Linked DNA regions of Homo sapiens: all the other regions are linked to region 3. The links come from fine-mapping of genetic effects on gene expression. A gene starts in region 3. Each other region holds a variant in brackets. All regions are shown on one strand. Distances are between the middles of the regions.

The links.
Region 1: its variant is fine-mapped to the expression of GLIPR2 in nasal epithelium (TOPMed, PIP 0.92).
Region 2: its variant is fine-mapped to the expression of GLIPR2 in left ventricle (GTEx, PIP above 0.99).

Annotation. Positions count from the first base shown.
Region 1 is chr9:36,277,747-36,288,296 of GRCh38, forward strand. LOC124902150 (a long non-coding RNA gene) reads left to right here. Exons shown (of 3, transcript XR_007061473.1): 3 at 6,962-7,393. It overlaps LOC102724322 (a long non-coding RNA gene), which reads left to right and starts at 10,268. Exons shown (of 5, transcript XR_001746660.2): 1 at 10,268-10,547. The variant C/T (reference allele first, on the strand shown) is at 3,860.
Region 2 is chr9:36,159,720-36,170,269 of GRCh38, forward strand. It overlaps GLIPR2 (GLI pathogenesis related 2), which reads left to right. Exons shown (of 5, transcript NM_022343.4): 5 at 2,643-4,187. The coding sequence ends at 2,803. It overlaps CCIN (calicin), which reads left to right and starts at 9,669. Exons shown (of 1, transcript NM_005893.3): 1 at 9,669-10,550. The coding sequence starts at 9,784. RefSeq lists enhancers at 2,032-2,612, 2,613-3,193, 6,575-6,684, 6,775-7,275 and a silencer at 6,875-7,084. The variant C/T (reference allele first, on the strand shown) is at 5,665.
Region 3 is chr9:36,131,218-36,141,767 of GRCh38, forward strand. GLIPR2 (GLI pathogenesis related 2) reads left to right here and starts at 5,516. Exons shown (of 5, transcript NM_022343.4): 1 at 5,516-5,574. The coding sequence starts at 5,562. RefSeq lists silencers at 5,168-5,737, 5,768-5,817.

The sequences.
Region 1 (10,550 bases), 150 kb after region 3:
CCTCGGCCTCCCAAAGTGCTGGGAATACAGGTGTGAGCCACCATGCTAAAATAACTCATTTTTTTCTTATATTTTTCTTTATTTTTTTTTCTTCTTGAGACAGTGTCTTGCTCTTGTCGCCCAGGCTGGAGTGCAGTGGCACAATCTCAGCTCACTACAACCTTTGCCTCCAGGGTTCAAGCAATTCTCCAGCCTCAGCCTCCCGAGTAGCTGGGATTACAGGTGTGTGCCACCACGCCCAGCTAGTTTTTGTATTTTTTAGTAGAGACAGGGTTTTGCCATGTTGGCCAGGCTGGTCTTGAACTGTTGACCTCAGGTGATCCACCCGCCTTGGCCTCCCAGAGTGCTGGGATTACAGGCATGAGCCACCACTCCTGGCCCTTATATTTTTCAAATATGTTAAAGGTATACATAACCCTCAACAACATTTTTTGTTAAATCTCTGCTCTTTGCTCTTTCTTCCCATCTGTTTCCTCACATCCAGTCTGCTCTTTTTTCTCTCTTAACTAAAAACTCTGTTAAAAAAAAAAAAAAAAGTTGTCTTCTCCGCTTCCTCCGTCTTTATAGAGAGGCAGGAGAGAACACTTCTAAGTGTGCCAGGGCAGGACCTTCTTTTTTCAGGCAGATAAAGGAGTGGATCCATGGATAGTATTTTTTAGAGGTGGGGTCTTGCTGTATTGTCCAGGCTAGACCTGGACTCAAGTGATCCTCCTGCCTCAGCCTCCCAAGTAGCTGGAACTAAAAGTGTGCACCACTTGGCCAGTTTTCATGGATGATTGTTATGCTTTTTCACTTCCTCTTGGTTAATCTTGACAGACATCCCCTCCTCCCAATAAAAATATCCAGGCATGGTGGCTCACACCTATAGTCCCAGCACTTTGGAAGGCCAAGGCAGGTGGATCACTTGAGGCCAGGAATTCAAGACCAGCCTGGGCAACATATTTAGATACCCATCTCTACAAAAAGAATTTTTTTTTAATTAGCTGGTCTTGGTGGCACATGCTTATAGTCCCAGCTGCTCAGGAGGCTGAACTGGGAGGACTGCTTTGAGTCCAGGAGTTTGAGGCTGCAATGAACTGTGATCTTGCCACTGCTCTGCAGCCTGGGCCACACGGCAAGACACTGTCTCAAGAAATAAATAAACAAAAATATCCAGTATTTAATATACTGTCCATAGACTGCCTATAGGACCTCACTTGAGAGCTTACAAATCAGCAATGGGAGAGAAAAAGCTGTCCAATAGAAAAAATTGGCAGAATAGCACTAGGGAACTCAAAAAAATATATGATCAAAAGTCTGACCTTACTACCATTTTTTAAAATTGTTTTTTGTTTTTATTTATTTATTTTTGTTTATTTTTTTGAGACAGAGTATCACTCTGTCACCCAGGCTGGAGTAGAGTGGCACGATCTCAGCTCACTGCAACCCCCGCCTCCCAGGTTCAAGTGATTCTCCAGCCTCAGCCTCCCAAGTAGCTGGGATCACAGGCATGCACCACCACCCCAGCTAATTTTCGTATTTTTAGTAGAGACAGGGTTTCGCCATGTTGGCCAGGCTGGTCTCGAACTCCTGACCTCAGGTGATCCTCCCACTTCAGCCTCCCAAAGTGCTGGGATTACAGGCATGAGCCACCTTGCTCAGCCTGTTTTTTGTTTTTTTAAGACAGAGTCTTGCTCTGTCGCCCAGGCTGGAGCGCAATGGCACGATCTCGGCTCAGCAACCTCCACCTCCCGGTTTCAAGTAATTCTCGTGCTTCAGCCTCCTGAGTAACCGGGATTAAAGGAGCCCACCATCACGCCTGGTTAATTTTTGTATTTTTTGTAGAGATGAGGTTTTGCCATGTTGCTCAGGCTCCTGGGCTCAAGCAATCTGCCCTCCTTGGCCTCCCAAAGGGCTGAGATTACAGGCATGAGCCACTGTGCCCAGCCTGCTCAGTGAAATATTATCCTCTTTTTAATAAATAAGATGTTCTTCATTGTGCTTTATGGGAGCACATATAATTAAAATTTTGTATTGTAAATTCAATATTAGGGCTGATTTTTTTTTTTTTAAACGGAGGTCTTACTCTGTCGCCCAGGCTGGAGGGCAGTGACGCGTTATCTTGGTTCATCGCAACCTCCACCTCCTGGGTTCAAGTGATTCTCCTGCCTCAGCCTCCTGAGTAGCTGGGACTACAGGCACATGCCACCGTGCCCAGCTAATTTTTGTATTTTTAGTAGAGATGGAGTTTCACCATGTTGGCCAGGCTGGTCTTAAACTCCTGACCTCAAGTGATGCGCCTGCCTCAACCTCCCAAAGTGCTGGGATTAGAGGCGTGAGCCACCATGCCCAGAGACATTTTTATTTTTATTTAATTAATTAGCTTATTTTAAAATACAAAGATGAAGTCTCACTGTGTTGCCCAGGTTGGTCTCAAACTCCTGGGCTCAAGTGATCCTCCTGCCCTGACCTCCCAAAGAGCTGGGATTACAGGCGTGAGCTGCCATGCCCAGCCTGAGCTGTTATTTTTATTCTGTCCATTTGATAATCTATTTGAAAGCTATACTCCTTGTGATCCAATCCCTACATTGAGTTGAAGTTAAATAAACACTGGTCTTGCTCTGAGTCTTAAAGAACCATGTTGATGTTTACTGTAGATGTTTACTTTAATTGGGCTGCACAGGAGTTTTATTCAGAGCATCATCCAGAAAGCTTCTAAACATCTTCACACAGTTCTCCTTGTCCCTGTAGTTTCCCAGGTGTTAAAAATCTCCTTTTCTGTCCCTTTGCACAGGGTTCTCACCCCATCCTGATGCTCTTCTGAATCACCTCCTCCTTCATGCTTCTCCTAAACAGAGACTCATTCTGCAGGGATTCTGGTGAATACAATTCTCCATTGAGCTACACATCCTTAGAACAAATGTTTAATGAGCACCTACTGTAGGCTCTGCCATGAATAATCTTTCACATTTGGTTAGGCTTTTTTCTGTCTACAGAATTACTTTCATGTCCATTATTTAGAATAGGGGTCATCAAATCTTTTCTATAGAGGGCCAGATATTTTTGCAGGCCATGTCTCTGTCACAACTTCTCTGCTCTGCCCTTGTGGTACAAAAGCAGCCATACACGATGTATAAAGGAATGGAGATGGCTGTGTGCCTTTGAGACTTTTTTTTACAAAAACAGATAGTGGCCTGGAATTGGCCGCTGAGCTATAGTCTGTCCACTCCTGACTTAGAACAACTCAGTGAAGTGGAAGTTACCTGTCCTATTTTATAGACCAGGAAAGGAATTGAGGCTCAGAGAAATTAAGTGGTTTGCCTAAAGTCACACAAACAAGTTACAAGTGGCTGACCCAGATCTCAAACATGGGTCAAAAAATGTGACTGCAAAGTCACTGCTATTTTAACCACACCATACCGTCTGTCACTCATTCAGATAGCTTGTGTCAAGAGTGACAAGCTTCTTAACCTACGTGCCACATGTTTGAGGAAGAGTTAGGTAAATTTTGATGCATCCACAAATCGCTATGCAGTTAGTCAACATGATATTTACAATGTGAAATCATGGAGAAATATGAAATGATGTGAATCAAAAGGCTAAGCACAAGATCGCATATAGAGTTGTGCTTGTGTAAAGGAAAAAAATACATAAAGGACTTAAGGGAAGTATCTTAGAATATTAACAGTTGTTGCCTCCTTGTAGATGCGAGACTGATTTTTCTGTGTGCTTATTTCTACTTTTTGTATTTTGCACTTTTTTTTGTTTTGTTTTTCTGAGACGGAGTCTCGCTCTGTTGCCAGGCTGGAGTGCAGTGGCGCAGTCTTGGCTCACTGTAACCTCTGCTTCTCAGGTTCAAGTGATTCTCCTGCCTCAGCCT[C/T]CTGAGTAGCTGGGACTACAGGTGCGCACCACCATGCCCTGTTAATTTTTGTATTTTTAGTAGAGTCAGGGTTTCACCATGTTAGCCAGGATGGTCTCGATCTCCTGACCTCGTGATCCACCCACCTTGGCCTCCCAAAGAGCTGGGATTACAGGCGTGAGCCACCACAAGCCCGGCCTTGCACACTTTTTTACAGTGTACATTATTACTTTGTGAGCCAGTAAATAATAAAACTTCGAAAGTGAATGCATCTTGAGGATGCTTACAATTTATTTTTTTTTTCCAGGATAAGATGGTTGGATTGGTCACTGGCTGGAACAGGAGAAATACATTTCACTTCAGATAAAGTAGAGAATACAGTTTTTAGCCAGGCAAAACCCTGATCTGTTTAAGACTAAGTTTCACAGAATGACAGAGGAAGTTGTGAAAAGCCTTGGTCTCTGGGCAGGCCTCATTTTTAGCCATGTTGCATGGTCCACCCCTAAGTGAACTACTTTAGAGTCCCCTCTTTCCTGAGAGAGCAAAAGAGGAGAGAAGTCTCCTTTGGAGAAGCAAAGACTCCTTCTCCAACTTGCAGCTTTTTTACCCCTGTGTTCTGCAATGATGGTAATATGAACAAACGTTAAATGTGTAGATACTGCAAGTATTATCCACAAGAACATCTAAAAATCATTTGCAATCCATCTTCTTCTAGAAGAGGTTAATGCCATTTATGAGGGTTGTAACGTGGAGAATTTTCTCATCACTGGGTTTCAGGCTGCAGATGTAGGGGTCAGATGGGCTAGTAATGAGCAGAATGCCTAGGCAATACGCTGATCTAATACCTGCCTCTTGGTCTTTCCTATTTGTTGAGCACACACGAGGGCAAGGACAAGGCCTGCCTGGTTGAACCGGAAAGGTACAACAGGCTACTTTTAGATCAGACTGTTTGGCACTTACGTAAACAGCAAAAGGAAGAGTGGCTCAAGGTGCCAGCTCCTATGGTCTTTGTCCCACTCACCAAAAGGACAACACCAAAACAAGAGGGGTCAGATAACTGCAAGGCAAGCCATGGGACGCCCTTTCGAGAAGCTCATTCTTAGCTGCAGCTAAGGGCTTTAGTATTCTGCAGCTCTATTCTGAGGGGGCCACAGCATAAAGCCCTAATCTCATCAGAACCTGGAAGGCATAAGAAATCATCTCAGCCTTCCAGGGAAGTAGGAACATGAATGGGAGATGGCATACATGCCACCATCCTCTCATGTTAAGGTATCTTTAAATAGAAATACACAGAAAACAAAGTTACGTATTGGTTGGTTGACAAAAATGACCAGAGGCTTTAGGAACCTAACCCTGTATTTCCCTTAAGAGTAATAATTCAGTATTCACTTATTCAGCATTCACAGCAACTTTATAGAACATAACTACCATGAAGAAAGAGAACTGGCTATATTATTATGAATACAGGAATGTAGTTTGGCCTTCACACACAGCCCCAAAAGGGCTCCAAGACTCTCCCTCCCTCCTCCGAGGTCCCCAGACCACACTTTGATAACTATTTCTGGTAGACTATAAACTGTGGCCAACTAGGGGTCAGCCATAGCTATTTTGTTCCTCTTCACATTTCCAGAGTCTTGCATAGTGCCAGGCATATATTGTGAGTTAAGTTAAAATGGGCTGGGGGTAAGATTTTTATGAGAAAGTTAAACCTGAGAGAGGAGAGACAGAGTGGTCTCTTTGGTGCTAAAGGTCAGTTCAGCCTTGATGTTGTTGTTGTCGTTGTTGTTTTTGAGACGGAGTCTCGCTTTGTCTCCCAGGCTGGAGTGCAGTGGCGCGATCTCGGCTCACTGCAAGCTCCGCCTCCTGGGTTCACGCCATTCTCCTGCCTCAGCCTCCCGAGTAGCTGGGACTACAGGCGCTTGCCACGCCCGGCTAATTTTTTGTATTTTTAGTAGAGATGGGGTTTCACCGTGTTCATCAGGATGGTCTCGATCTCCTGATCTCGTGATCCGCCCATCTCGGCCTCCCAAAGTGCTGGGATTACAGGCATGAGCCACTGCGCCCGGCCGTTTTTTTTTTTTTTTTTTTTTTCTTAATGACAGGGCTCACTCTGTTGCCGAGGCTGGAGTGCAGTGGCACAATCTCGGCTCACTGCAACCTCTGCCTTCAGGGCTCAAGCGAACCTCCCACCTCAGCCTCCTGAGTAGCTGGGAGTACAGGCATGAGTCACCACACCCAGCTAATTTTTTGTATTTTTTTAGAGATGGGGTCTCACTATGTTGCTCAGGCTGGTCTCAAACTCCTGGGCTCAAACAGTCCACCTGCCTTGACCTCCCAAAGTGCTAGGATTACAGGCATCCACCATTGCACCCAGCACAACATATATACCTTATTTATTTATTTATTTATTTATTTATTTATTTATTTTGAGACAGAGTTTCACCGTGTCACCCAGGCTGGAGTACAGTAGCGTGATCTCAGCTCACTGCAACCTCTGTCTCATGAGTTCAAGCGATTCTCCTGCCCCAGCCTCCTGAATAGCTGGGATTACAGGCCCCCGCTACCACTCCCGGCTAATTTTTGTATTTTTAGTAGAGACGGGGTTTCTCCATGTTGGCCAGGCTGGTCTCGAACTGTTGACCTCAGGTGATCCACCCTCCTCAGCCTCCCAAAGTGCTGGGATTATAGGCGTGAGCCACCATGCCCGCTGGAATTTTAAAATACTTTATTACGGCTCCATAGCTAATGGGTTAGAGCACTGGTCTTGTAAAATACTTTATTACTGAAAAATGCTAATGATCACCTGAGCCTTCAGTGAGTCATCTTTTTGCTGCTGGAGGGTCTTGCCTCAGTGTTGTGGCTGGTGACTGATCAGGGTGGTGGCTGCTGAAGATCAGGATGCCTGTGGCAATTTCCTGAAATAAAACAATGATGAAGTTTGCTACATCGATTGACTCTTTCACCAAAGATTTCTCTGTAGCATGAGATACTATTTGATAGCATTTACCCACAGTAGAACTTCCTTCAATACTGGAATCAATCCTATCAAACCATGCCACTGCTTTATGAACTGCGTTATGTAATATTCTAAATCCTCTGTTGTCATTTCAACAATGTCCACAGCGTCTTCATCAGGAGTAGAATCCACATCAAGAAAAGATGTTCTTGGCTCATTCAGAAGAAACAACACCTCCTTCATTCAAGTTTGATTGTGAGATGGCAGCAATTCAGTCACATCTTCAGGCTCCACTTCTAACTGTACTTCTCTTGCTGTGTCTACCACATCTGCAGTTACTTCCTCCACAGAAGTCTTGAGCCCCCTAAAGTCAACTATGAGCGTTGGAATCAACTTCTCCCAAATCCTGTTAATGTGGCTATTTTGACCTTCTCCTATGAATCATGAATGTTCTTAATGGCATCTAGAATGATTAATTCTTTCCAAAGTCTTTCAATTTACTTTGCCCAGATCCATTAGAGGAATCAAGATCAATGGCAGCTATGGCCCAACAAAATGTATTTCTTTCTTTTTTTTTTTTTTTTTTTTTGAGATGGAGTCTTGCTCTGTCACCCAGGCTGGAGTACAGTAGCGCAATCTTGGCTCACTGCAACCTCCACCTCCCAGGTTCAAGCAATTCTCCTGCCTCAGCCTCCCAAGTATCTGGGACTACAGGCGTGTGCCACCCAGCCCAGCTAATTTTTGTATTTTTAGTAGAGACAGTGTTTCACCATGTTAGCCAGGATGGTCTCGATCTCTTGACCTCATGATCCGCCCGCCTCAGCCTCCCAAAGTGCTGGGATTGCAGGCGTGAGCCCCCATGCCCGGCCAATGTATTTCTTAAGTAATAGGACTTGAAAGTCAAAATTACTCTTTGATCCATGGGCTATGGACTGGATGTTGTGTTAGCAGGCATGAAAACAACATTCATCTCCTTGCACATCTTCATCAGAGCCCTTGGGTGACCAGGTGAACTGTCAGTGAGTGGTAATTTTCTGAAAGGAATCTTTTCTTCTTTTTCTGGGCAGTAAATCTCAATAGTGGGCTTAAAATATTCAGTAAACCATGCTAATTACCGGATATGCTGTCATCCAGGCTTTGCTATTCCATTTATAGAGCACAAGAAGAGTAGCTTTAGCATGTTTTTTTTTTGTTTTTTTTTTTTTTGAGACAGAGTCTCGCTGTGTTGCCTAGGCTGGAGTGCAGTGGTGTGATCCCAGCTTACGGCAACCTCTGCCTCCCGGGTGCCTCCTGGGTTCAAGTGATACTCCTGTCTCAGCCTCCTGAGTAGCTGGGATCACAGGCATGCACCACCACACCTGGCTAATTTTTGTATTTTTAGTAAAGATGGGGTTTTGCCATGTTGGCCGGGCTGGTCTCAAACTCCTGACCTCAGGTGATCCACCCCCTTCGGCCTCCCAAAATGCTGGGATTACAGGCGTGAGCCACCACGCCTGGCCAGCTTTAGCATAACTCTTAAAGGTCCTAGAATTTTCAGAATGGCAAATGAGCACTGACTTCAACTTAAAGCCACCAGCTGCATTAGCTCCTAATAAGAGAGCCAGCCTGTTCTTTAAAGTTTGAAGCCAGGCACTGACTTCTCCTCTCTAGCTATGAGGGTCCTACATGGCCTCTTCATCCAAGAGAAAGCTGTTTGTTTTATCTACATTGAAAATCTGTTGTTTAGCGCAGCCGCCTTCGTCAGTGATCTTAGCCAGATCTTCTGGATAACTTGCTGCAGCTTCTACATCAGCACTTGCTGCTTCACCTTGCACTTTTATGTTATAGAGCTGGCTTCTTTCCTTCAATCTGATGAACCAGCCTCTGTTAGCTTCCAAGTTTTCTTCTATAGATAACCTCACCTCTCTCAGCCTCCACAGAATTGAAGAGTTATGGCCTTGGTCTGGATTAGGCTTTGGCTAAAGGGAATGTTGTGGCTGGTTTGATCTTCTATCCAGACTACTCAAACTTTCCCCGTATCAGCAATAAGGATGTTTTGCTTTCTTATCATTTGTATGTTCCCTGGAGTGACACTTTCAACATCCTTCAACAGCTTTTCCCCTGCATTCACAACTTGACTAACTGGCACAAGAGGCATAGCTTTTGGCCGATCTCAGCTTTCGACATGCGTTCCTCACTAAGCTTAATCATTTGTAGCTTTTGATTTAAAGTGAGAGTCGTGCGACTCTTCCTTTCACTTGAACACTTAGAGGCTATTGTAGGATTATTAGTTGGCTTAACTTCAATGTTATTGTGTCTCAGGGAGTAGGGAGGCCCACGGAAGAGGGGAGAGAGATGGGGAAATAGCCGGTTGGTCAGTTGAGCAATCGGAACATGCACACTTATTGATTAAGTTTGCTGTCTTATATGGGTGCGATTTGTGGCACCTCAAAACAATTACAATAGTAACATCAAAGGTCACTGATCATGCCTGTAAACCTAGCACTTCGGGAGGCTGAGGTTGGAGGATCACTTGAGTCCAGGAACTCAAGACCAGCCTGGACAACATAATGAGACCCTGTCTCTACAAAAAAATTAAAAAAACTAGTGGCATGCGTCTGTAGTCCCAGCTACTCAAGGGGCTGAGGTGGGCGGATTGTTTGAGCCCAGGAGGTTGAGGCTACAGTGGTCGCACCACGGCACTCCAGCCTGGGCAACAGAGTGAGACCCTGTCTCGAAATAATAATCACAGTCATAATTATAATAATGAAAAAGTTTGAAATGCTGTAAGAATGATGAAAATGTGACACAGACGTGAAGTGAGCACATGCTGTTGGAAAAATGGCACCGATAGCCTTGCTCCAGGCAGGGTTGCCATAAACCTTCCATTTGTAAAACGTGCAGTATCTGCAAGGTGTGATAAAGCAAAGCACAATAGAATGAGTTATTCTTGGACTCACAGAGCATAACACGGGGATAAATACGCACAAATCTATACTGATTAAACATCTTGATTATTGAAGTAGATTTTACAGTATGACTTTTTTAAGATGCAAGATATGGAATCAGACCTATCCTCACATTTTCTAGTACTGGGTTAACATTTGTGTAAACTTTTAGCTACTCTAGATTAGAAAATGTAACATCATTGTTCCTTATCTTTTCTTATACAAATAAGACTAGGCCTTAGGTCTGTGGCTTTAATGAAATAATAATTTGTCATTATTTATGTCAAATTCAGCCCCTGCTTTACTTTCTTTTCTTTTCTTTTTTTTTTTTTTTTTTCTGAGACAGAGTCTCACTCTGTTGCCCAGGTTGGAGTGCAGTAGCTCAATCTTGGATCACTGCAACCTCCACCTCCTGGGTTCAAGCAATTCTCCTGCCTCAGCCTCCTCAGCAGCTGGGACTACAGGGGCACACCACCATGCCCGGCTAATTTTTGTGTTTTTAGTAGAGATGGGGTTTCACCATGTTGGCCAGGCTGATCTCAAACTCCTGACCTCAAGTGATCAACCCACCTCGGCCCCCCAAAGTGCTGGGATTACAGACATGAGCCACCACGCCCAGACCCTTGCTTTACTTTCATTTGGCATATGGTTTTTTCCACAGTGATGACCAACAAATGAAACTGTGCACCTTTGAAAGAGACTCTGCAGTTACATTTCAGCTCTAATATCCCACACACAGGTATCCTTGCATCCTGTGAGGGGGAGGAGGTGCAGGCACTAAGCAGATTCCTGGAAATCAATGGCCAGAGGCGATGTTTTCAGAGAGGTG
Region 2 (10,550 bases), 29 kb after region 3:
ACTTGGCTGGGCCAAGGCGAGTGAATCACCTGAGGTCAGGAGTTCAAGACCAGCCTGACCAGTATGGTGAAACCCATCTCTACTAAAAATACAACAATTAGCCGGGCATAGTGGCGTGCACCTGTAATCCCAGCTACTTGGAAGGCTGAGGCAGGAGAATTGCTTGAACATGGGAGGTGGAGGCTGCAGTGAGCCGAGATCACGCTACTGTACTCCAGTCTGGGCAACGGTGAGACTCCGTCTCAAAAATAAATAAATAAATAAAAGGGTGTTTGCAAACGACTTCTTTGAACAAATGATATTTAGGCTAAGACCAAGGGACAAGAAGCTGTTGGTCATCAGAAGGGTGTCTTGGCCAGGCATGGTGGATCATACCTGTAATCTCAGCACTTTGGGAAACCGAGGCAATTCTCCTGCCTCAGCCTTCCCGATTAGCTGGGATTACAGGCATGCACCACCATGCCCGGCTAATTTTGTATTTTTAGTAGAGATGGGGTTTCTCCATGTTGGTCAGGCTGGTCTCCAACTCCCAACCTAAGATGATCCGCCCACCTCGGCCTCTCGAAGTGCTGGCATTGCAGGCGTGAGTCACGGCGCCCGGCCTTACAAATACTTTTTGAAAAATGATTCGGCAGTGGCGGCATGTGCCTGTGGTCCCAGCTACTCAGGAAGCTGAGGTGGGAGGGTCTCCTGAGCCCTGGAGGTGGAAGCTGAAGTAAGCTATGATCATGCCACTGAACTCCATCCAGCCTAGGTGACAGAGATCCTGTCAGAAAGAAGGGAAGAGAAGAGAAAAAGAGAAGAGGAAGGGAAGGAGGGAGAGAAGAAAAAAGAGAAGAAGAAAGAAGGAAAACAGAAGAAAAAAAATGTGCAAGGGTTCTGAGGTGGGACATACTCTGGTGTGTTCAAGGAATGGAGAGGAGGCCACTGCACCAAAGGATTCACTTTCATTCTAAGTGCATTGGGGAGCGAGTGAAGGATTGTTAAGCAGGGAAGTAAATAGATATGATTTATATCTCAGAATGGTCACTCTGAATACTAAGTAGAAAATGAGGCTCACGCCTGTAATCTCAGCAGTTTGGGAGGCCGAGGTGGGCAGAGCACCTGAGGTCAGGAGTTCAACACCAGCCTGGACAACATGGTGAAACCTTGTCTCTACTAAAAATACAAAAAAATAGCTGGGCATGGTGGCACACACCTGTAGTCCCAGCTACTTGGGAGGCTGAGGTGGGAGGATCACTTAAACCAAGGAGGTGGAGGTTGCAGTGAGCTGAGATCATGACACTGCACTCCAGCCTGGGTGACAGGGTGAGACTCGTCTCAAAAAAAAAAGAAAAGAAAAAGAAAATGATTTTGAGGGGCCAAGGTGGATGCCATAGAACCAGTCAGGAGGCTATTGCAATGGTCCATGTGAGAAAAGTTTGCAATTGGGACCAAGGGTTTGGGAGTGGGTGGACCTGAGATGCATTTTAGAGTTGGATTCTTCAAGACTGAATACTAGGTTGTTGTGGGGAAAAGGAAGAAGAGGAGGGATGCAGACTCCCCCTGGCAGTGTGCACATGGAGGTACCATTGATGGAGATGGGAGGACTGGGAGAGGAATAAATCTAGGGGGACAAAAACTGGGAGTGAGGTTTGGAAAGGTTAAATCTGAGATGCCTGTGAGTCATCCATGTGGAAATGTCCAGTAATTAGTTATGTCTGGAACACAGAGCAGTGATTTGAGCTGGAGAAATAAATTTGGGAGCCAGGGAAAGATGAAATTCCCTAAAGAGAGCTTAGAGGAAAAAAAAAAAAGGGCCCAGGATTGAGCCCTGGGAAGTGTGGGTCCTTCAATATCTATAAGTGAGGGCGAGGAGGCGGAAGAGGAGGCAGTGAGACAGGAGGAATGGCAAGAGACTGTGGCATCCTAGAAACCAAAAGGGGGAGGGGTGCCTTGAAAAGGAGAAGAGTAGGAAGTGTTCCTCAGGTGTCAAGTAAGATGAAGACAAAAGGGGATCACTGGAGAGCTTCAAGATTACAGCTTGGGGACAGGGTTAGACACAGGCAGTAGGCAGTAGAGTGGCATCCTAATTGTTGGGGCCACTGGGCTTTGTCGTGATCTCTGGGAGACTGTTGGAAGGTGGTGAGGTGGGTAAGGTCTGTGTGGCTGATAGAAAGGACCTGCTTTAGAATTCAGGCAGTCTGGCCAGGCACAGTGGCTCACACCTGTAATCCCAGCACTGGGAGACTGAGGCAGGTGGATCGCCTGAGGTCAGGAGTTCGAGACCATGGTGAAACCTCATCTCTACTAAAAATACAAAAAAATTAGCTGGGCGTGGTGGCATGCACCTGTAGTCCCAGCTACTTGGGAGGCTGAGGCAGGAGAATCACTCGAACCCAGGAGGTGGAGGTTGCAGTGAGCCAAGATCATGCCACTGCACTCCAGCCTGGGTTACAGAGCGAGACTCCATCTTGGGGGAAAAAAAAAGAAGTCAGGCAGTCAGAGTGTTTTCTCTCTCCTTCCCCTGCAGGGGGTCTGTGAAGACCATGCTGACCTGAGCCTGGCAAGATGGTACAGGGGTTCAACAATCCCCTGCCACATCCTTCTTCAGGCTCTGCTAATTCAGCCGTGTCCCTCTCCCTCTGCCCGTTCCCCTACAGGACACTTCACGGCCATGGTATGGAAGAACACCAAGAAGATGGGCGTGGGGAAGGCGTCCGCAAGTGACGGGTCCTCCTTTGTGGTGGCCAGATACTTCCCAGCGGGGAATGTTGTCAATGAGGGCTTCTTCGAAGAAAACGTCCTGCCGCCGAAGAAGTAACTTGTTAAATGTAATGGGAAGGTGGCAGACTTAAGAACGTGGATATGAAGTGCCTAGAACCACCACAACCTGGCTGTGCGTCTGTCCCTGTGGGTGTATGTGCTTGTGTGTGTGATGCATGTGAGCGTCTCTGGCACACACACTTGGACATACAGTTCTGTGTGCGCTCATTCTTATTACAGGAGTGAGCAAAGGAAGCATTTACCCCGATGGTTACCTAGACCACGATTATTTGGATTGGGGGGAGGGGGGATCCGTTTTTTTTTTTTAATTTTTTGTTATTTCTAAGCAAACCTCTTTTGTACTTTTCTTACTTCTAATATCCATCCCTGGACTTTTTGTATTCCAAATGTTTGTGATGCTGAGAAGTGAAGTTCATTTTATGTGATCTTCATGCGTCGTAATCTACTTTTGGTAGATAATTAAGATTATTAAACCCTCATTTAAATGTGACATAAAATACAGCTTTAAGCACATAAATACAAAGCAGCTTCCATCAGGAACATGGAGCAGGCAGGGACTCCATTTTACAGAATTACTGAGATTTCTCAGTTGTAAAACATGATGTCATCCTGCATGCCTCCTGGAATTCTCCAATGGGGTCGCCAAACAACAAATGGAGAAAAAAAGTTTTACTTCCTTGCATTCTTCTACCTTTAAATAGCAAAGTACCACTACCACCACCACCTCTTGCCCCCTTCCCTCTTTTCTTAAACTTCTGGCATTTCAGAGCTCAGCAGGCTACCCCTGGTTTCTGGAGAGTTGGGCTAGGCCTGAAGCTCCCCCTCCCCCACCTCTGCTAGGCAGCCCAGGCCTGGTCTGGGAGACAGCCCCTCACCCTGCCTGGGCTCTTGGCCAAGCGGCCTTGGATGGATGAAGTCAGAGAGGTGGGGTGAGGGTGAGCTTACTCAGGGCCCCCAGAGGAAGCCCTCAGCCTCTGCCCTCCCCCCACACAGGGCGGGAGCCCAGGCCTGTTCCTGGCAGCTGTGGCTGCAGCTGTGCTCCTGCTCCCTCCTGGAATGTGCGACAAGCCCAAATGTTCCGGGGAGGCGGCCGGGGCAGGGGGCTTAGAAGTGCTAATATGGTTCTGTGTTTTGCCTGAAACGATACCAGGTTCCCCTGAATAGCAACTTTACAAGGTCCATGTGGGAGGGACCAACCCAGATGCCCTGCTGAGTGTCCCTGAAACCATGGCAGCTCCATCTGTCAAGATGGCAGGGGCCGGAGTGAGGGGGCTGCTGGCTTAACAGCAGGCATCTGGGCAGGCCAGTCCTCAAAGCAGCTCCTGAAGGTCTGTGTTGCACTGTCACCAGTCTCAAGCTATGCCTCTAATTTCACCAGGGATATTGACTAAGAAGACAATAAAATCTTTTTCTTTGTGTAATAACCTCCTCCAATGTGATTCATACTTCATTCTCCATGGCTGAGACAATCCGTGACTCTGAATCCCTCTCTCGATTAACCCCAGAATACCTGCAACCCATTCCCCGTGGACTGTGTTGCTTAAGTGGCCAAGTTTTAAGCCATCTGACCCACCAGCACAGAGCTGATTGGACTAGAGTGGACACTGGATCCAACGGCAGCCAATCACCAGGCTGGCCATGGACTGGGAATTTCAGCTAAGAATTATGGAGAGAATTTACCAGTGGAACTGAAAAAAATAAGGATGCCATAAATTGGAATTAGGGCCATGGCAAACCAAAGCTACTTGCAAGCCAAGTTATGAATAGGAAATACACAGAAGCGAAGAAGCCAGTTATTGGAGGTACAAAAGAGGAGGAGATGCTGAGAATATTCTTGAATGTTCCTGAGTTTTCTAGCTCCAGCCCAAATCTGTATATCTTTAAAATATGCCCCTCATTTTCCTCAGGGCTTCCAAACAAACTGATATACCAGCCGATAGTCCCCAAAGATTAGAATCATACCATCTCTTCCTAACGGGAGACACCATGAACAGAAAATGTGGCGCCTGGTAGGAAGCTGACGGTGGGTGAAAAGACCCTGCTGAGATCCTTTTCTGGCCCCACCTGGCAAGCTGCCAGCCAATGAACTTCTTGGTGGCTCCTCGGGTCACCCCCCCCACCCCCATACACACACACACACACACACACACAACCAGGTGGTGGAAGCCAGCATGCAGCCAGCCTCTATGGGCTGGAGTTTGTTTCCACAGTTGGCTGGATTGAGGAAAAAGCTGGACCGGGGAGCTTTCCTGGGCTAAAGAAATGCCAGACAGCAAAGCTGGCTGAGCAGGTGGGCACTAATCTCACTTTTAAGGATTTCTTGAAGATGGCAAGCCTCACAATCCAAAAAGAACAAGGACAAACCAAACCGCGGCTCTCCTTTGTAGCCAGAGGGCAGAGGAAGAAGACAGCTCTCTGGTGCAAGCCTCTTCCTCTCCCTGGGCTTCAATTTATCCACCTGTACGAGGTCTGTCACATGGAGTTAGGTCTATCAGTTCTCTCAGGTCCCCATGACACCTCCAGACCCAACTTAATGCTGGAAGTGTCTGATGAGAGAGCTCATTCCTGCCTTGGTGCTCTGGGAGCTGAAACAAAAACAAACAGGCATGGCCACCTCCTCCACTGAAATGCTCCCAAGGCTGAAGCTTGCAGGTGGGAGGGCAGGGGAGAGGACAAAGGAGGTGTGAAGCAGCAGGGCCTGACCCACCCACCCCCTGCTCCCGGGTGAAGATGTCCCAGGAGGCGAGATCTGCCAGCCTGCATGTCCATGGGAGCCAGAAGGTGTCTGGCATCAGCACCAAGAGGCCTCATCATTCACCCAAGTTGCTGCTGCTGCTTTGCAGAAGGTAAGGGCTGAAGAGGCATTAAGGGCTTAATTATTCTCCCAGGGAGACTGGT[C/T]TCCGGAGGAGGAGGCTGAAATTGAAGTCTACTTCCAATGGGGAAAACAGAAGTTCTTCACTTTGTGCACGTATCATATCCCAAGAGACCGAGTCTCTCTATCGCATTCGGGCGGGAAGGTGGACAAATTCAGTTTAAAAGGGTATTTTTGGCCAGGTGCGGTGGCTAACGCCTGTAATCCCATACATTAGGAGGCCAAGGTGGGTGGATCACGAGGTCAGGAGTTCAAGACCAGCCTGGCCAAGACGGTGAAACCCCGTCTCTACTAAAAATACAAAAGTTAGCCGGGCGTGGCTGCGCGCGCCTGTAATCCCAGCTACTTGGGAGGCTGAGGCAAGAAATTACTTGAACCCGGGAGGCGGAGGTTGCAGTGAGCCGAGATCGGGCCACTGCACTCCAGCCTGGGGGACAGAGTGAGACTCCATCTCAGAAAAAAAAAAAAAAAAAAGGGAAGGGGCGTATTTTCAAATAATTTTCAAGTTACCAAATCTAAAAATAAGGAAAAGACTAGTCTGGAATGAACGGACGAGGGAGGGAGACAATGAGAATGAGAATATGACTAAGCCAGGGAGGGAAAGAGCTGGAACGGCTCAGATTCCCGAGGCTGATACTGAAATTTCCCGGGAGGGGCACTGAGGACGGCCCGAGGGTCTAGAGTGGGGCTTGGGCCCAGATTGGAGGAGATCAGAGAGGTAAGTCCTTTCTGTACCTTCTCGCGAATGCCTGGGCGAGATGCAAGTCCAGGCCCTTCTCTGGGGTCTCTTCCCAAAGGCTGGTCCGGGTGGGGCTACTGGGCTCTTTTGCCTCCCCCTCCCTCCCGCCCGCGGCGCTCCAGCTGGCGCTTATCCCCTTCTTGCACGAACAGCAGTTCCACAGACGCCCCACAGGACTCCGGGAGCCCCACGCCAGCCAGGAATCTGTCCGAGTCTGCGGGCACCCTCCTCTCTCCCCGCAAAGGACTCGCAGGGGTCAGGAAACCCCCCCAGCTGTTACTGGGAGTCGGAGACAGTCTTCTGGCCTCTGGAGGGCGCGCCTCCGTTGGGGGCTCAGCGTCCCCATCTGTAAAGTGGGGACAGGTGTGTGTCTGGGGAAATCTAAGGAGTCCTGCAAGGCTGAGAGCCCCCGATCCTGCCGTTTGAATTCCAGGGTCGCGGCGGACGGCACGGCGCTGCCGCCTTTGCACGGTGGCGCGTGGAGGCAAAGCGAAAAAGGGGACGCCCCGCGCCTCTTTTCCATCCTGGAGAGGGGTTGGGGTGGTGCCCGGCGCAGAGGCGGTGCGCTCGGGGGCGGGGACGACCCTCCAGCGCCACCGCGTGGCTGGACTGGGTTCGGGCGGCGGGCCCAGAAGAGACGCGAGGTAGCCACAGCCTCCTCAGCTACCGCGAAACCAGAACCACGATGACCACAAGTTTTTATGAAGGGAGCAGCCACGAACGCCGGCGCTGGGCGAACTGGTGTAATATGAGTAAGAAAACGGCAGCTAGCATTGATTGAGCTTTATGACAAGCCCACTACTCTCCAGTCCTTTTCTCATTTAAACTCTAATAATAGGCCGGGCACGGTGGTTCACGCCTATAATCCCAACCCTTTGAGAGGCCGAGGCGGGCGGATCACCTGAGGTCAGGGGTTCGAGACCAGCTTGGCCAACATGGTGAAACCTCGTCTCTACTAAAAATACAAAACTTTGCCGGGCATGTTGACAGGCGCCTGTAATCCCAGCTACTGGGGGTGGGGGGTGAGGGGGGTTGGGGGGTTGGGTAATAAAAGACAGGGGAATTGCAACAGAGAAAGAGTAATTCACACAGAGCCAGCCGTGCGGGAGACTGGAGGGTTTTGTTTTTGTTTTTTGGGGTTTTTTTTTTTGAGACGGAGTCTCACTCTGTCGCCCAGGCTGGAGTGCAATGGTGCGATCTGGGCACGCTGCAACCTCCGCCTCCCGGGTTCGAGCGATTCTGCTGCCTCAGTCTCCCCAGTAGCTGGGATTACAGGCATTACAGGCATGCACCACCACTCCCAACTAATTTTTGTATTTTTAGTAGAGACAGGGTTTTGCCATGTTGGCCAGGCTGGTCTCGAAACCATGACCTCAGGTGATCCGCCCACCTTGGCATCCCAAAGTGCTAGGATTACAAGCATGAGGCACCGCGCCCGGCCTGGAGTTTTATTATTACTCAAATCAGTCTCCCGGAGCATTGGGGGAGCAGAGTTTTTAAAGATAACTTGGTGGGTAGGGGGAAGCCAGTGAGCCAGGAGTGCTGCTGATTGGTCAGAGATGAAATCATGGGAGTTGGAGCTGTCTTCTTGGGCTGAGTCAGTTCTTGGGTCTGGGGGCCACAAGATCAGATGAGCCAGTTTATTGATCTGAGTGGTGCCAGCTGATCCATCAAGTGCAGGTTCTGCAAAATATCTCAAGCACCGGCCGGGCACGGGGGCTCACGCCTGTAATCCCAGCACTTTGGAAGGCTGAGGCAGGTGGATCACCTGAGGTCGGGAGTTTGAGACCAGCCTGACCAACATAGAGAAACCCCATCTCTACTAAAAATACAGAATTAGCCGGGTGTGGTGGTGCATGCCTGTAATCCCAGCTACTCAGGAGGCTGAGGCAGGAGAAACGCTTGAACCCGGGAGTTGGAGGTTGTGGTGAGCCGAGAACGCACCATTGCACTCCGGCCTGGGCAAGAAGAGCGAAACTGTCTAAAAAAAAAAAAAAAGAGAAATCTCAAGCACTGGTCTTAGGAGCAGTTTAGGGAGGGTTAGAATCTTGTAGCCTCCAGCTACATGACTCCTAAACCATAATTTCTAATCTTGTGGCTAATGTTAGTCCTACAAAGGCAATCTAGTCCCCAGGCAAGAAGGAGGTCTGCTTTGGGAAAGGGCTGTCTTTGTTTAAACCGTAAACTATACATATAGGTTTCTCCCAAAGTTAGTTCAGCCTTTGCCAAGGAATGAGCAAGGACAGCTTGGAGGTTAGAAGCAAGATGGAGTCAGTTAAGTTGATCTCTTTCACTGTCTCAGTCATAATTTTGCAAAGGCTGTTTCAAGCTGAGATCGCACCACTGCACTCCAACCTGGGTGACAGAGCGAGACTCTGTCTCAAAAAAATAAAAATAAAAATAAAAATAAACTCATAATAATCTTTGAAGTGGGTACTACTATCAAATATTAGTTCCATCTCACAGAGGAGGAAACTGAGGTTTAGAAAGTCTGATCAACTCGCCCAAGTCCACCTTTGATGGAGAAAGCTGACCCACTGAAGCCCCCAACATTTTCCAACTGGACACTTGGAAATGTTGGGGGAACATTCTAGTTTGCCAAGGAGCTGAAATCATCCGGTCTTTAAAGACCCTCCCATGCCCCCGTTTGTGGTTAACTCCTTCATCCCTGCTCCAGGGAGTGGCCTCCACCTCTCCATTTTGAAGGAGAATGATGTCTGTGGCCACCAAGGTCAGAAGCCAAAGGACAGAGCTTTTCTCTGATGCCCAGGAGCCTTGGCAGGAAGAGTGCTTGGAGAGTTGAGAGTCAGAGACTGGGGAAAGCTGGGTAGTCAGGAGCTTCCAGAAGGGTAGGAAGAATGCGAGGTTCCCCAGGTTCTGGGCCCTGCTCGGCTTCCAACTGGCTATGTGATTTTGGGCAAGTGCCTTCTCTTCTCTGGGCCTCAGTTTCCCTCAAAATGGGAGGATTCTTCTAGGTCTAATAATCTCTTCCCTTTCCCCACCTCCCCTTATCTCTCCTACACAAACTGCTCCCCACTGCCCCACCCAGACTGGCTCTGATATTCCAGAAGCCTTTAACTACGGTTTGAAAGTCCCAGGTGGAAGTTGCCGCCCATCCCTGAGGTTCCTCCTGAGCTCTGGGCCCAGGGCTTTAGGTCCTGCTAGGGTATGTGGCCTTGGCAGGTTGGAGAGATCAGAGGGGAGGAAGGCCCAGTGCCTCTGAGACAGGCCTCAGGGAGGCCTGCATTGTGATGACCTGATCCACTCTATGACATCATCCTCTCTTCCACCCTCTCTTCTCCCTGGTCAACCGCTCTGCAAACAACCATCAATCTGATCCCACAGGCCTGAGAAAGTCTGCTCTCCAGTACCTGCTGCTGATCTGTTTCAGCCGACAAGAGGCACCATGAAATTGGAATTCACGGAGAAAAACTACAATAGCTTCGTGCTGCAGAACCTGAACAGACAGAGGAAACGCAAAGAGTACTGGGACATGGCCCTGAGTGTGGACAACCACGTCTTCTTTGCACATCGCAATGTGCTGGCTGCTGTCTCCCCACTGGTGAGGAGCCTCATCTCCAGCAATGACATGAAGACCGCTGATGAGCTTTTCATCACCATTGACACCAGTTACCTGAGCCCGGTCACAGTGGACCAGCTTCTGGACTACTTCTATAGCGGCAAGGTGGTGATCTCCGAGCAAAATGTGGAGGAGCTGCTTCGTGGGGCTCAGTATTTCAACACACCACGCCTTCGAGTTCACTGTAACGACTTCCTTATTAAGTCCATCTGCCGTGCCAACTGCTTGCGCTACCTCTTCTTGGCTGAGCTGTTTGAGCTCAAAGAGGTATCAGACGTAGCTTACTCTGGCATTCGGGACAACTTCCACTACTGGGCCAGTCCTGAGGGCTCCATGCACTTCATGCGCTGTCCACCTGTTATCTTTGGCCGCCTGCTCCGTGATGAAAACCTTCACGTGCTCAATGAAGACCAGGCGCTCAGCGCACTCATCAATTGGGTGTACTTCCGGAAGGAGGATCGGGAGAAGTATTTCAAGAAGTTCTTCAATTACATCAATCTCAATGCTGTCTCCAATAAGACGCTGGTGTTTGCCAGCAACAAGCTGGTGGGCATGGAGAACACCTCATCCCATACAACCCTGATTGAGAGTGT
Region 3 (10,550 bases):
TAATTTTTTTTTTTTTTTTTAAAGACAGGGTCTCACTCCATTACCCAGGCTGGAGTACAGTAGCATGATCAGAATTCACTGCAGCCTTGAGCTCCTGGGCTCAAGCCATCCTCCCACTTCAGCCTCCTGAGTAGCAGGGACTACAGGTGTGTGCGCCACACCCAGCTATTTATTTTTAATTTTTTGTAGAGATAGGGTCTTGCCATGTTGTCCAGGCTGCTCTTGAATTCCTGGCCCCAAGCTATCCTCCCACCTTGGACTCCTATGGCACTGGGATTACAGGCATGAGCCATCCTGCCTGGCCAATAAGAGGGAGTTTTTCATTAAAATCCCTTTATTTTCAAGTCAAGGAAGTATTAAGTTATAAGAAGTTACTGTCTGTACTTTTTTTCTCAGTCCTTTGATGGTGAATCTTCTTTCCTTACAGGTTTCAACCCTCTGGGCACAGAGTCAAATATTCCCCTCTTAGGAAGGGTATACAAGGCCGGGTGCAGTGGCTTATGCCTATAATCCCAGCACTTTGGGAGGCCGAGGAGGGCAGATCATGAGGTCAGGAGTTTGAGACCAGCCTGGCCAACATGGTGAAACTCTGTCTCTACTAAAAATACAAAAATCAGCCGGGCATGGTGGCGCACGCCTGTAATTCCAGCTACTCAGGAGGCTGAGCCAGGAGAATTTCTTGAACCCAGGAGGCAGAGGCTGCAGTGAGCCGAGATCATACCACTGCAGTTCAGCCTGGGCAACAGAGCAAGACTCCATCTCAAAAAAAGAAAAAGAAAAGCAGAGCAAGATATTTTGAGCCCAGGTCTAACTCACAACCGATGTTCATATTTCTCATGCTGTATACTTTCCTCTAAGTACATCTTTGGCTGCATCCCATGTATTTTCTAACCACAATAATAAAGAAAGCATAACAGGATAAAATAAGGAGACTTTCTGCCAGTTTTCTTTCCCCCACTTTTCTAGTTGTCATGGCCTTTCACCCACTGGCTATTACAGTGAATTTTTTATTCCGAAAACCTCTGCCAATCAAGAGCCAAAGACTGGAGGGCTTAAAGCATAGTTTGTTTCATAAACCAGTTTGGGGAATAATTCATAATGATGTAAGAGCTTAGACACTGAGAAGGGGCTGAGTCATGGGGTGCAGCATGTTCTGGGAAAACAGATTTAGGACAGAAACAAAATTTCTCCTTTTAAGAATGGAGATACGATTGACATTCGCTGGTTTTTGGCTTTTCAGCATGTGGTAGAGTCTCTATTTGAATGTAAAAGACCCTTTCTAACTCTGGCAGCTTGTGGGGTTTGGAGAGGGGGTGGGAAATTTCCTTGGTTCTCTTTGTTTATTTATTTTATTAATTTTTTTGAGACAGAGTCTCGCTCTGTTGCCCAGGCTGGAGTGCGGTGGCACAATCTCGGCTCACTGCAACCTCCACCTCCTGGGTTCAAGCGATTCTCGTGCCTCAGCCTCCTGAGTAGCTGAGACTACAGTCTCGCGCCACCATGCCAGGCTAATTTTTTGTATTTTTAGTAGTGACGGGGTTTCACCACATTGGTCAGGTTTGTCTCGAACTCCTTACCTCAGGTGATCTGCCCACCTCAGCTTCCCAAAGTGTTGGGATTACAGGCGTGAGCCACCGCGCCTAGCACTGTGTTCTCTTTCTGGGTGCTTGTGTGAAGGCTTGTGACTCAGGCGCGGCCAGATGGATGCACCTGTCCAAGCACCCGAGTCTAGAGGAGGCAACTCAAAGGTGTGGAGAGGAGCCCAGAAAGATTAGGAATTTATCCCAAAGAAACTGAAGTAGATGTGAGTTTCCTTGAGTGTGATCTCAATCTTAAAAAAAAAAAAAAATCCTCTAAGCCAGGTGCAGTGGCACTCACCTGTAGTCCCAGCTACTTGGGAGGCAGAGGCAGGACAATCATCTGACCCAGGAATTCAAGGCTGCAGTGAGCTACTGTACTCCAGCCTGGGCACCATAGCAAGACACCATCGCTAAAAAAATTATCTAAGATAAGTATTATTATCTTCATTTTACAGATGAGAAAACAGACATGGAGAAACCCGAGCACCCAAACCAGAGCCACAGTCTCTGTGGGCAGCAGAGCTAGAAACTGAACTTGGGCCACAGGACTTCAAACCCATGTTCCACACTCTTAACAATTACCAAGTTTTTGTTGTTGTTGTTTTTTGTTTTTTTTTTTAGACAGGGGCTTGCTCTGTTGCCCAGGCTAAAGTACAGTGGCACAATCATAGCTCACTACAGCCTCGACCTCCCAGGATCAAATGATTCTCCATCTCAGCCTCCTGAGGAGCTGGGACCACAGGCATGTGCCACCACACCTGGCTAATTTTTGTAATTTTTTTTTTTTAATTTTGTGAGACACAGGGTCCCTCTATATTGTCCAGGCTCGTCTCAAACTCCTGTTCTCAAGCGATTCACCTGCCCTGGCTTCCCAAAGTGCTAGGATTACAGGTGTGAGCCACCACGCCCAGCCTGCAGAGTATTCAGATTGTCATTTATATCTGAACGTGTTTTGATTTTGCCTTTCAGTGCTGTAAGAGGGATTTTTTTTATTTTCTAGATGATTCAAAAATTTTTAGCCAATCTTTTGTTATTTAGTTTTAGTTTTATTACATTGTGCTCAGAAAATGTGACTGAATTTTTTCTACTTTCAGGAATTTATTACAGCTTAGTTTAAGACCTAACATTTGGTCAATTTTTGTATTTATTCCATACAAATTTGAAAATAATGTTATCGGGCCGGGAGTGTTGGCTCACGCCTGTAAACCCAGCATTTTGGGAGGCCGAGGCGGGTGGATCACCTGAGATCGGGAGTTTGAGACCAGCCTGGCCAACATGGAGAAATCCCGTTTCTACTAAAAACACAAAAATTAGCTGGATGTGGTGGCACATGCCTGTAATCCCAGCTACTGGGGTCAAGGGGAGGGCACTGAGGCAGCAGAATTGCTTGAACCTGGGAGGTGGAGGTTGCAGTGAGCCAAGATCAAGACACTGTACTCCAGCCTGGGCAACAGAGGGAGACTGCATCTCAAAAAGAAAAAAGAAAATAATGTTATCAAGTATGAATGGTATTAATACAAATTAAAAGGCAGATATTGTCAGACAGGATTTAAAAAAAAGACCTAACTGCATCTTGTCAACTATAAGATGTCTATTTTAAATATAAAGAAACGGTTAAAAGTTAAAAGATGGAGTAGTGGTGGCTGGGCGGGGTGGCTCACGCCTCTAATCCCAACACTTTGGGAGGCCAACGTGGGTAGATCACTTGAGTTCAAGGCCAGCCTGGCCAATATGGTGAAACCCCGTCTCTACTAAAAATACAAAAAATTAGCTGGGCATGGCGGCACATGCCTGTAATCCCAGCTACTTGGGAGGCTGAGGCAGGAGAATTGCTTGAACCCAGGAGGTGGAGGTTGCAGTGATCCGAGATCGCACCACTGCACCCCAGCCTATGAGACAGAGCGAGACTGTCTCAAAACACACACACACACACACACACACACACACACAAAGACAATACATTGGGTCAATCACTCTTCTTTGTGTCTGACCTTTGTGGCCATTTGTCTCTTGTGTCTGATGCCTGGACAGCGACTCCCTCTCCAACTAGCCCACGGCCCTTGGTCGGGGTTGACTTTGGCACTGCCCTAACACCCTCCATTCAGCACCCTGTTCCTTCATGTGCCTGCTGCTAAGGTTATGAATTTCTAAGTTAGGAAATGCATCCACTCTCAGCCCCTCTCACCTCCAGTCCTCAGACCTCAAGGTGTCAGTGAAACATGGTGGTCCCAGATGGGCTTCCCTCTGCGTGCAGTGAGCAGCCCGCTGAGCCTCACTGTCTCCACCCACGGCCTTAAAGTTTTTGTTATGTGAAATACAGCCTTCTAGAGATTCTAGGGGCAACATGGAATTCTTCCTACTGTGTTTATTTGATTATTTCAATAGGCATTTGTTGACAAAATGGGAGAGGGAATTGAATAGAGGGGGTTAGATCCCCACCTAGCACCAGGAGTCCCTTTTGTTTGTTTATAGAGATGGGAGGGGGGGTCTCACTATATTGCCTCAGGCTGGTCTTGAACTCCTGGGCTCAAGAATCCTCCCACCTCCGCCTCCTGAAGTGCTGGGATTACAGGCGTGAGCCACCGCACCCAGCCCCAGGAGTCCCTTTTGAATCAGGGTTGGGCACCAATTTGACCCATACTGAATACTTTAGGTGACTGTAACACAATGGTAAAAATTTGCATATATAAACAGATGTAAACATAGAAACATAGTAAAAATATGGTATCATAATCTCTTGGGACTACCACAGTATATGTGGTCTGGCATTGACTGAAATGTCATTACTCATGACGGTACTAAAATACAGTAGGTGTATTTGCCTGACATGGGGAAAGGAATAGAGAGCACAGTGCCCAGCCATCGCCCTGCGGGACATTCGTAAGCCGTTGGTATTACAAATTCTAGCCTTATCATCAGTGGGTCAGCTCACTTCAGTGCCCATTCATTGAAAAGCCTTAAAATTCGCTTCCTTCATTTGGGGTGTACTGAGCCCCTTCCCCAGAAAGGAGCGCTTGCGGGAAGTCTGGCACAGGTGACTAGGGCTGTGCGGTCAAGTAAGTGCACTTCTCCCACGGGGCAGGGGCCATGGGTGGGACCACATCTCCCCAGTACCTGGTGTGTGCTGCTCCCAGGGTCAGGGCACCTGGCAGTTGGAAAGACCGGCCGACCCCGAGGGATGGGCAGCACTGGAATGGTGGCTCCAGGGCCAGCACTCCCGGAGGAGGGACCGCCTGAGGAAAGGCAGGGAGGTGGGAAATCCCAGAACATGTTTGGGGAATGACAAGACATCTAGTTTGACTGGAGTATGGGGAAAAGGTGGGGCGTTGGGGAGACAGGTCTGGGGCCAGACTGCAGGGGTGGGAATTGGCTTGGTCTGGGAGGCAATGAGGGGCGAGTGGACGGGTCAGAGGCGGCGGCGCTTCCACCCCGACTGGCATTAGAGGGCGTGTCCTAGGAGAGGAGCATCCCCCTCCCCGGACCAGCCGCCCTCCGGAGCCCAGAGTCACCGGAGATGGGGGCACACCCCGGGGCTGCGTGTGTCGTGTCAGGCCGCGGCAGGGAGAGGCCGTCCCCTGGTGGCGCCGGCCGGAACGCCCCTCGTGCCGCGACCGCGCGCCCCTCTGTCCTCGCCGCGCGTCGGCGCAGAGCAGCCACCCGGGGCCCAGCAGGCGCGGGCTTCCCCACGCGCCCCGGGAAGGGACAGCTCGGTGTGGGGTCCGGGAGGCTTGAGCCCCGCGGCCGCATCCGGGGAGCCCTCGGCAGTCGCGGAGCTGCTTCCCAGGGGTGAGCTCTCCGGGAGGCCCACGGGGTGGCCCCGGGCGCCTCCGCCCTCAGCTGTCGCTCCTTATAAGGCGGGGGCCGGGCGGCGCCGGAGGAGGGGCCGCGGCATCAGCCCGGTCCTGGGCTCTGGGGCGGCGCTGGGCCGGGCGAGCGCAGTGCAGCGCAGCCGCGGGGAGCGAGGAGCGCGCGGAGCCGGCCATGGGCAAGTCAGGTGAGCCCGCGGGCTCGCCCGCTGCGGAATGGTTCGGAACCCCGCGCTCCCGGACCTCGCCGTCTCCCTCGTCCGCCGCAAGCCAGGTCCTGGGGAGTGCGGGAGCCCGGGGTGCGGGTGGAGGGCGCGCGGGCGGAGCGCCCCGGCGCGGTTTCCGGGGAACCCGGGGGGAAGGCGAGCCCGAGGGAGGCCCCCGCCGGAGAGCCGGGGATCGCGCCAAGTTGGGCTTCCCGACCCTGAGGGGCTGCGCGCCGCGGCCCGCCAAGGCGTGGCTTCTGCTTTGTTTCAGGAGGCCAGACTTAGAGTTGGAAAAGTCACCAAAGTGTGACAACAGCTCTCGCTGCGAAGCAGTTTGCCCCGCTCGGCTGTCCCGAGGACAGCCCTGAGCATCCCCCTCATCCATTTGTTGTTCCTTCTCTCCTGAGCGCCCGCGCCGTGCCGGGCTCCCCCTGTGCTAGGCTCGGTCTGGCTCCCTTTCTCCTGGGGCACCCCATCCTCTCTACTGTGGCTGTCGGGATGAACTTTCTGCAGCGCAGCTCTCCTCCTGTCGCTCCCTAACACCTTCCTCACCATTGTCCTCAGAGTGAAAGGACACACTCCAGTCCTGCCTTCGGGCCCCTGGGAGTGGGTCCCTAGCCCTTACCTCCGCCCTACACTAGAGCTGTCCAGAAGCTGGTGCACAGGTCCCTTCCCCTAGGTTTCCTTGCCGGGCCTTCACCACCCCAACTCTCAGCCTGAAAATCCCATCCCTCTAGGCTCAGCTCCTGGGCTGGAGCCCATCTGTGATTCCCCCCGGGAGGGAGCGCCCAACCTGGTGTTTTCCTCGCTGCAGCCCTTCCTGTAGTGGGCCGGGGACAAGAGTTCAGCCATAGACCTGTTTCCCACCGGGTCCTCACCCCTGGCTGCCAGGGGCCGTGTTTATCTCAGCATTGCTTCTGCCTCACAGGAGGCTCTTAGAGAACAGCTGTTGAACAGGATTCAGAAGTCCTGCTTCATCCGGATTGTCCACTTCAGATGAGTAAGGCTAGGTCCCTTCTAGGATCTGTCCTCCAAGATCTGGACTCAGGAGATGCCAGCGCTGGGCGCAAGTGGCTTTCCCTGGCCTTGGTCCTAACCAGCCTTCCTAGGCTGTAGAGGCAGGTCTGGCTTTCAGCCCTGGCCCAGCCAATCACTGGCTGTGTGATACTGAGCAAGCCTCCTTCCCTCTGTTCCTCCCTGTCTGTACAATGAGGGTGGCCGTATGAGCCCTGGGGTTCTTCACAGTATGGAAAGGTGATATAATGGGTTGCCATTTAGTTAACAGGATGACAGATGGTGATGGAGCAAAAGTATGGCAGATGAGAGCGAGTCTTTCGAGATATCTGCTTGGGAAATCAACTCCTTTCTCTGTAGAAATTTGTGGAGAAAATCCACAAATTCCCTTAGGCTACTTTTTTTTTTTCTTTCTTTCTGAGACGTGGTCTCCTTCTGTTGCCCAGGCTGGAGTGCAGTGGTGCGATCTCGGCTCACTGCAACCTCCGCCTCCCAGGTTCAAGTCATTCTCCTGCCTCAGCCTCCTGAGTAGCTGGGATTACAGGTGTGCGCCACCACGCCCAGCTAACTTTTGTATTTTTAGTAGAGACAGGGTTTCACCGTGTTGGTCAGGCTGGTCTTGAACTCCTGACCTCATGATCTGCCTGCCTCAGCCTCCCAAAGTGCTAGGATTACAGGTGCGCCCAGCCTAGGCTACACCTTAATCAGTTGTTTCTGGCATCTTATGTAAGGCACGGTTTTCCAGAACTGCTCATATTCAGCTGTGTGCCCATTCTTCTGTCTGTTCGCCCCTTCCTCCTTCCCTCCCTTGCACTGTCTAGCAGCTCTGTATCAAGCTGTGGACCCAGTGCCGGGGCGTGCATCCACTTGGATTGTGAAAGGAATACATAAAGCTATGTAGGGGATAGACAGGCACTATCTGGCTCGAGTAAGAGGTGGAAAATGATCCAAACCACAAGACAGGTGCTGGTGAAGGGTGGTGGGAGCTCAAGGTGAGGAGACTGCTCCGCGTGGGAGCCGACGAGGGTTCCTGGAGGAGATGGTCAAATCCCAGAGGGTCTTGGGAATTTAGACTTCATCTTATGGAACCTGGGGTGCCATGGAAAGGCACTGATCTGAAAGCAGCGTAACTAGAGCGTTGCCAGGGTGTAGGGTAGATCGGATGGATGGAGAGAAGGTGGAGGGAGGATAGGGGAGACTGCCGCAGTCACAAACAGGAGATGACAGAGGCATCCAGGGCAGGGTGGAGGCTGGAGAGGAGGATGGGATGGATTTGTGAGATGGTGGCCTTGGGCAGACTTGGTGACAACTTATTGTGAAGCAGAGGGAAGGGTCAGAGGCCTGCACGATGGGATGATGGCTTCCATGCCTGGAGATGCAGGGTTGGGCAGGTTTCAGAGGAAGATTACTTCTCACTCAGGAGAGGAGGGGGCCAGTGGCAGAAAGCAGGTTAGAACTGGTTGAGTCAGAGGCCACCTCCACCCCTAACACACACACACACACCCAGGGACCTTGCAGAATTCTGACCCAGGCCTTTCTCCCTCATAGTCACGTGCATTTAATTTAACTCCCCCACCCCAACCGGAAAACCGAGAGCCCCCAGAATAGTATTAATATCTGGCTCTCCTAGGGTCCCTAAAAGAAAATGACTTTTCTGGGTGACCCCGTGCCCAGTGGTCCTTCAACTCAAGCTCAACCTTGAAGTTCCAGGCCGTCAGCCCAGGGCTGCTGTCTGTGTCTATAGGGCAGGTGGCACTCACAGGGGCTCTGTGTGCTTCTGTAAAGACCATCATAAGGAATCTGTCCCTGCCCCTTCTGGGCCTCAGTTTCCTCCTCACTGCACAGGAGCCAGTCTCTTTTTCATCTTTAACCTCAGATACACCCCAGAGCTGCTTGGCATAACAGGCGTTATTGTAAAATCATCACACAGCTGGCACAGTTGAAATTCCAGAAGACGCTTGGCCTAGTGATCGAAGACTCCCAGATCCTGCTCCCAGCTGTGGTTTCTCTGCTGGGACTTGGTGTGCAGCAAGTGTGGTGGGGAAGAGAAAGGCAATGACCTTGGGCTCAGTGGAAGCCTCCTGTCCCTAATACTGGTGACACCAATGATTAATCTTCAACTGCATGCCAGGCAAAGAGCTCAGTATTTTCTATGTTACCATATTAGTGACAGCACTGCCAGGCAGTTATTATCAACTCATTCTATAGATTTACAGAGGTTGAGTACCTTGCCCAAGCTCACACACTGACAGGTAAGCAAGCCAGTGAATTTGAACTCAGCTCTCTGACTCCCCTACTGTGTCCTGTCCTCTCTCCCACACTGACCACTTGCCCTGACACCCTGCTCCCTGCCAGCCTGAACTCTAGGCCACTGGGGACTTCCACACACCCTCTCATCAGCTCTAAGAATATTAGTGTCCCTCCATCCACCTAGCACCAGAGGAAATCAGAGCAGAGAGGCCTTTAGGGACCAACGAGCCCAGGAGTTTTCTACTGAGTGGGACCCTCAGGCCTCTGCAGGGAGAAGCTGTGTGGGCCAGGCCAACCCCAGCAGTTTCATTTTCATCTGTTGCTTTTATTGAAGGTTTCCTTCAAAGGAAGGGTTTCCCTGCTTTGAAGATATTATGAAAACCACAGATGTCATCCTTCCTTCACACACAGATGGGAAACCTGGGGCCCAGAGGGGTAGGGATGTGCCTGAGTGACAGTAGGCAGGCAGGGCTGGAAAATGGCTGCCTCCCCTTCAATTACAACCACTGTCTATGGAGAGGGACAGCCTAGGGGAGGCTGATGCTTGGGGGAAGGGGGTGCCTTGTTCCCGTAAGCAATTGAGCAACTCGTCATAGACATCATTCTTGCCATTTGGAAAAGAGGAAGCAATTCGTAAAGTGGAAAGTGTGGGAGATTTGGAGCAGGGGAGGGGGTAAAGGGAGGGGCATTCTTACACCCGGCTCTAATGTGGGCTCTGTGTGGTCTTGGACAATGCGCATGCCCCCCACCATCCAAACACCCCAGTTTCCTCATCTGTAATGAAGAGAGGAATCCTGTCCCGCCTTCGCTGTGCTGGAGTGAGAACCTCATTCATTTGTTCACTCACTCATTCACTTAGCAAATATCCAAGCTCAGAGGGACTGAAAAAGGCCATCAAACGTCAATGTAAAGGCAGGGCAGGAGGGGACCTGACCCGGAAGGAGCAGGAACAGGTTCTTCTAAAGCCAAAGCCCAAAAGGTTTCTGTCCCTGTCCGATGGTAATAATAATCATTACAGTTGGCATTTAATACCTGTTCATTATATTCCAGAACAGTTCGAAAGCATTTACATAGATTAATTCATTTAACTCTCACTGCAGCCTTGTGAGGTAGATACTGCTGTTCTCATTTTATGTATGGGGAAAGGAGGCACAGAGTGTTGAAGCAACGTGTCCAAGATCGCATGGCCAGTAAAAGGCAGTGCGGGGATTTGGCTGTTGAAATTCCCGGATCCGGCTTAAAGAGCAGGAGTTACCCAGCTGAAATTCATTCTTTTTTTTTTTTTCCTTAAACTGCCAACTTTTTATTCTTTCTTCCTGATAAACAAGCAAAACCAGCTTTGCCCCGAAGGCAGAACCGGGCTGCTTTCCAGCCTTTTGCCAAGGGGGCAGGGGGCCTGTTCACAATTCCTGCCCTGGGCCCTGACAGTCACTGGCTCTTTCATGAGGAGCCTGGAGAGGGCAGAGTGAGTCAGGCTGGGCTCAGGGAGGCCTCAGGAGAGGAGGAAGATGCTGAGGGAAGAGCCTGTCTCAGCCAAAAGTTTAAATGGTAGAGGAGGGGCATAGACCTCCTCAGAATCTTTTTTTTCTTTTTCTTTTGAGTCAAGGTCTTGCTCTGTCACGCAGGCTGGAGTGCAGTGGTGCGATCATGGCTCACTGCAGCCTCGATCTCCTGGGCTCAAGCGATCCTCCCAT